Regions from separate parts of the Homo sapiens genome. Here region 1 is linked to region 2. The links come from fine-mapping of genetic effects on gene expression. A gene starts in region 2. The other region holds a variant in brackets. All regions are shown on one strand. Distances are from middle to middle. Region 1 overlaps APTR (Alu-mediated CDKN1A/p21 transcriptional regulator). Region 2 holds the start of PHTF2 (putative homeodomain transcription factor 2).

The links. PIP is the estimated chance that this variant, and not a neighbour inherited with it, causes the effect. A credible set is the group of variants that fine-mapping cannot tell apart.
Region 1: its variant is the best candidate, but not a certain one, in a credible set for the expression of PHTF2 in whole blood (TOPMed, PIP 0.86).

The regions. Positions count from the first base shown.
Region 1 is chr7:77,690,024-77,692,932 of GRCh38, reverse strand. The region is part of intron 1 of APTR (Alu-mediated CDKN1A/p21 transcriptional regulator); the gene reads left to right. Among named protein-coding and RNA genes, the nearest start is that of APTR, 4.8 kb to the left of the region's middle. RefSeq lists an enhancer at 366-865. The variant C/T (reference allele first, on the strand shown) is at 1,862.
Region 2 is chr7:77,797,629-77,800,537 of GRCh38, reverse strand. PHTF2 (putative homeodomain transcription factor 2) reads right to left here and starts at 1,765. Exons shown (of 19, transcript NM_001395272.1): 1 at 1,567-1,765. TMEM60 (transmembrane protein 60) reads left to right here and starts at 2,104. Exons shown (of 2, transcript NM_032936.4): 1 at 2,104-2,284. RefSeq lists a silencer at 1,685-1,824 and an enhancer at 2,235-2,344.

The sequences.
Region 1 (2,909 bases), 110 kb after region 2:
AAACTTTGTCTCTACTAAAAATACAAAAATTAGCTGGGCATGGTGGCACGTCCTTGTAGTCCAGCTACTCGGGAGGCTGTGGTAGAGAATCGCTTGAATCTGGGAGACGGAGGTTGCAGCGAGCCAAGATCACGCCACTGCACTCCAGCCTGGGCGACAGAATGAGACTCTGTCTCAAAAAAAAAAAAAAAACGAAAACGAAAAAACCTGGATCTGACCATCTCTCTTGCCTTGCTTCAGACCTGAAGTCAATGGCTTTCATTGCTCTCGGGACAAAAAACAAAATCCTTAATGTGTCCTGTAAGACCTTTCATGAACTATCCCCTTCTTCTATTTCAAACTAACAGGTCTTTAATCTCCAGAACCCACCATGTTGTCTTTCAACATAGAAACATTGCATATGTGATTCTCTCTACTTGACGTGCTTTTTCCTTTGGCTGTTGCCTATGTGATGATTTGGATAATGAACATAAGGGAGGCAGATATCATGAATACCTTCTATATTTCTAACCAGCAAAACTTGGCAGTGGTACCATTCCCTGAGCCAAGAAACAGTGGAAGAGTGACAAGTTTCAGGTACTCTTGGACCTTGGACCTGTTGAACGCGACGTGCCTTTTCTCATCTCCATTCCTTTTTGCTTTTCAGTCGTTGGTGTTGTTGACTCACTGGTTATCTCTTGCTTCCTTTTCCATTTCATTCTCTGTAACAGCTCTACCGAAAGCATACTACCCTACCTACCCTACACCCTGCTTCTCCACCTTTTTTTTTTCTTTTTTCTTTTTTTTTTTTTTTTTTTTGAGGTCAGGTCTCAGCTCTATCACCCAGGCTACAGTGCAGTGGCAGCTTCACAGCTCGCTGCAGCCTTGACCTCCTGGGCTCAAGCATTCCCCCCACCTCAGCCTCCCGAGTAGCTGGGACTAAGGCATTTGCCACCATACCTAGCTAATTTTTGTATTTTTGTAGAGACAGGGTTTCGCCATGTTGTTGCCCAGGCTGGTCGAGAACTCCTGGGCTCAAACACTCTGACCACCACGGTCTCCCAAAGTGCTGGGATTACAGACATGAGCCAGCATAGCCAGCCGAAACTGGGTCTTTTATAAAGAACAGAAATTTATTTTGTCACAATTCTAGGGGCTGGGAGCCCAAGATCACGGCACTGGCAGGTTCATTTGTTTGATATGGGCCACATCCTCCTGAGGGGAGGAACATATTGGCCTCACATGGTAGAAGGCAGCAGGCTGAAGGCTTCATGAGGCCTCTATTATCTTATTTATTTTGAGACAGAATTTTTTTTTTTTTTTTTTTTTGGAGACGGAATCTGTCTCTGACGCCCAGGCTGGAGTGCAGTGGTGCGATCTCAGCTCACTGCAAGCTCCGCCTCCCGGGTTCACGCCATTCTCCTGCCTCAGCCTCCCGAGTAGCTGGGACTACAGGCGCCCGCCACTACGCCCGGCTAATTTTTGTATTTTTAGTAGAGACAGGGTTTCACCGTGTTAGCCAGGATGGTCTCGATCTCCTGACCTCGTGATCCGCCCACCTCGGCCTCCCAAAGTGCTGGGATTACAGGCGTGAGCCACCACGCCCGGCCTGACAGAATCTTGTTTTGTCGCCCAGGCTGGAGTGCAGTGGCGCAACTGCAGCCTCGACCTCCTGGACTAAAGTGATCCTACCACCTCAGCCTCCCAGGTAGCTAGGACTTCAGACACTCGCCATAACTCCCAGCTAATTTTTGCTTATGTTTTGTAGAGATGGGGCCTCACTGTGTTACCCAGGCTGGTCACAAACTCCTGGGCTCAAGCGATCCACTTGCCCATGAAGCCTCTTGTAATCCCATAAACCTCATTCACAAGAGAGCAACCC[C/T]TCTGGCCTAAACACGTCTTAAAGGCCCCACATCTTAATACCATTACATTGGCCATTAAGTTTCAACACCTGAATTTTGGAGGGGACACATTGAAACCATAGCAATGGGTAAAAAATAATAAGTCAGAGTCAGGTTGAATGTGAGATCACAGGAAGTGGAGGGTACTATAGAAAACTGGGAATATGATGTGTTTTCTACAATATACATTTGTGTTTCTCAGCTCTCGCTGCTCGTTCCCTTATGGAAATAGTGGTCCTACTTGCTAAATATATAGATTTTTTAATGGGAAGTTTCCTAAAACACCATGCAAGCCAAACAAACATCTGTGAGTCAGTTATAACCCACAGACTAGCAGGCTGACTTCTGATCTAGAAAGGAGTAGCTTCGTTTTGTTAAGATCGTTTTGAGAGTTTTGTTTATTTTAATTCACAACCCTGTCTTTGTCCGTTGCTGGAATAGATGCTAATCGAATATATTCAAACTTCCAGCCATAACAAATGTGTGTTCGCAGTGCTTAGAGCTGTCCTCTGTACAACCTAGAATCTGGTTTCTCTGCACGTGACATCCTTCTGCCTTTCTGAGCTGAACTGTATTTTCACTCTGCACATGTACTATCCCTCTGGCCTTGTCCAGGTTCCTGATCCCCTTGTATAAAGAAAGCAGTTATTTGACCCTTGTACTTTATGCAGCCATGTACTAACCTTAAAGACATTTCTGGCCAGGTGCAGTGGCTCACGCCTGTAATCCCAGCACTTTGGAAGGCCGAGGCAGGTAGATCATAAGGTCAGGAGTTTGAGACCAGCCTGGCCAACAAGGTGAAACCTCATCTCTCCTAAAAATATGAAAAAATTAGCCAGGCGTGGTGGCACATGCCTGTAGTCCCAACTACTCCAGAGGCTGAGGCAGGAGAATCGCTTGAACTTGGGAGGCGGAGGTTACAGCCAGGCAAGACTGTGCCATTGCACTCTAGCCTGGGTGACAGGGTGAGATTCCGTCTCAAAACAAACAAACAAAAAAGGACATTTCTTCTGTCCTTATGGCATAGAT
Region 2 (2,909 bases):
TCTATGCAAGAGTGCCCCCATTGTATACTATACTTGTTTACTCACCACATTTTCATGCTCCACCAGAAAGTGGTCAAAATTGGAACACGAAAACTCTCCACCTCACTAACACCTAACTTAAAACTATCAGATGCATTCAGACAGCCAGTCTGTGTGGGAGGCAGGCTATTTCTGGGGCAAAAATATTTCCTGGAACCACTGTTTCTGGCCCCAGACATGGCTCATTCTCCGCAGACCTCCAGATTCCTCTCCTCTACGTTATGGAGGTGGAGCCACTACAACTGATAACGCATATCCATTTCCTTCTCTTAAAATTTGCAGTCCATACACCATATCCAAGTTAGGATTTCAAATTGTTATACTGTTTTGTGACTCTTTAGGCTAAAGTGTGCAGTTTCCAGACTTTCAGAATTCCCCTTCCAATATTAAAAATATGGTGAAAAAAGCCCAGTTTGAAAGAAAATAAACTTTACAAAAATACCTGAAAACAAGATCAAATACTAAGTCTCTTGCCAAAGTCTTGGAGAAAAAAAAAATGAAAGAAACGTTTAAAAATGGCAAAAGCTAACCAAAAACCTTAAGATTAAAGTATCACACCTGAAAAGTAGTCTCAAAGCAAGGAGGATATACTATTAACAAAGAAAGCAACCGAAAACTACAAAATATTTAATATTCACCATGAATTTCAAAATTACTTGGCATGTAAAGTACACACTGAGATTAATAAATTGTTCCAGATTCTGCACTGCCCAGGTTAGTATAAGGCAGTTCCTTGTTTTCGCCACGCTAAAAATAAGAAGGGTGACAGATTAGTGACAGAATGATCCCTGAAGTTACACAAGGAGGTGCTGAGTTAGAAAGCCATGACTCGAAGGACAATACCAGAATGCTGGCTGTCAACACTGGGCAGATAAAAATAAGAAAAGCTGAAGCATGCTGATGGAGCACGGTATTGTTTCCAGACGGGAACTATCCCTTAAGGCCCATGCCTTAAGCACCCACTCCGCCGTGTTGGGATCAGAAAACTCGACTGCCGCCTGCTCAGAGGGGGCAGGGCAGCGACCCTCCTTCCACCTCCTCCAGCGCGCGAGCCGCCGCCCCCTCCCGAGCCCGCTCCTCCGGCCGCTAGCTGACATCTCCCCGCCAGCCGGGCTAGCCACCCGAGACCCCTGAACGCCCTTCCAGGACCCGACGACCCCTCAGCACAGCGCCAAGGGAAGGAAGCAAAGGACAGGGGCCTGGAAGCGGGGCCCGAGGGGCGGGTGGCGCGCTGGGCTTCGGCCCGTCACCATCAAGACTTGAGGACCGCGCGAGCTCGGGAGGAAGGCGGCTGAGCCTCCGCCACCGGCCGACTGATGAGAAGGGGTCGCGGCTGACCCCGGCCCTCAGGTACGGGAGACTGCCGGGAAAGTCGCCGGCGACGGAGGGCGACGCGTTGGCCCCGGAGCCCCCACCTCCATCCCGACGACCGCTCTCCTCCCTCGTCCCGATCCATCCTCGAAATTCTGTCAGAACTCGACGACCTCCACACTGCCCACCCGAGCGCGGAGGTGATGCCGCTCTTACCGTAGGAGCGAGCGCCGCGCCGCTAGGAGGCGGCTGAGGTGCGCGCGGGAGACTCCGAAGCTAGCGCCGCCGCCAACAGAGCCCAAGGAGCCACAACGAGGCTGCCCGCGGGCGCGCTGCCTCCAGAGGGTTGCCCCACCCCCTCTCCCGCAGGATTTTGCGCCGGAGCCTGCAGTCACTGCGCGCGGGCAGGGAGGATGGGAGGAGGGGCGGGGCGTCCCGAGAGGGCGGAGCTGAGCGCCGGCTGCTCTGATTAACATCTGTGGGCCCAATGGGAGCACGGAAACTCCAGGCTGATCTTGGACTGACTTCCCTACTAACCCGTGACAGTAGAGAGGCGGGACCAATGGGTCTTTTTATTGCCGCCTTTCTGTCGAACCCGAAAGTAAGGAAAGGTCGGTTGGTTTGCACTGGCGGACAAATGGTCCAATTACCGCGGAAAAGGGACCTCTGAATCCAGATTGGCGTCCTCTCTACCTATAGGGTAGGCTCAGGGGCGGTGAGAACCAGCCCCGGATGTGGGCGCGGCACTGAGGTAGAACTGAGAGATCCTCTACCGCAGTCGTTTGAGGAGGCGGAACTGAAGTTTTTTCTTAATTATCATGTGACGGGTTCTGGATTTAATGGGGGGAAAAGGGCGGAAAAGGACAAGGATCCAAACTGGCGAATTTGCTGATCTTCGCGTCCCTCTCCGCTTTCCGGCCGGCAGCGCTGCCAGGTGAGTCTGGGGCTCTGCCCTAGCCCGCACCGTACGCCGGCGCTGGTCTCCTGATGCTTCCGTGGGCTGTGCGGCCGACCCTCAACCCATCACACAGCCAGCCCCAAACGCGCACACGCCTGCTTGGCTCCAGGGCTTCTGTGCGCATCCAGCAGGAACCGTGTTAAACTCCAGCATGTGCTGGGCTTACAGCCCATGAAAGGGGAGCGTCCCGGTGGGGCGCCGCGAGCCGACTGTCGGTGTTTGCAGAAGGGCAAGTATAGTTTAGGAGCGTCCTGAAGTTCCAGGGGCAAATAGGCCCCCAGATGAGCTAAGTTGTAAGCAGAACGCTGTTCCTTTGGCCAAGGCTGTTGCTGCACGGGCTTTTCAAAAGCGACTCATTATGAAGAAGAATAAATATGTGGGCTCATGAAGCAAAATTATCTTTGGGATGAGGCAGGTTCACTTGGTAGACTACTGGCAGTGGCGAGAGAAGGGAAATGGGGGCTGATACCCAGCCGTGGGCTATGTGGGTGGGGCTCTATATATGTCCATACAGGGGTAACTCCGAAGGTTTTAAAAATGAGTAAGGAATCATTAACAAATATTTAACTGTCTTCCTAGTGCCAGAAATAACCACCTTAAA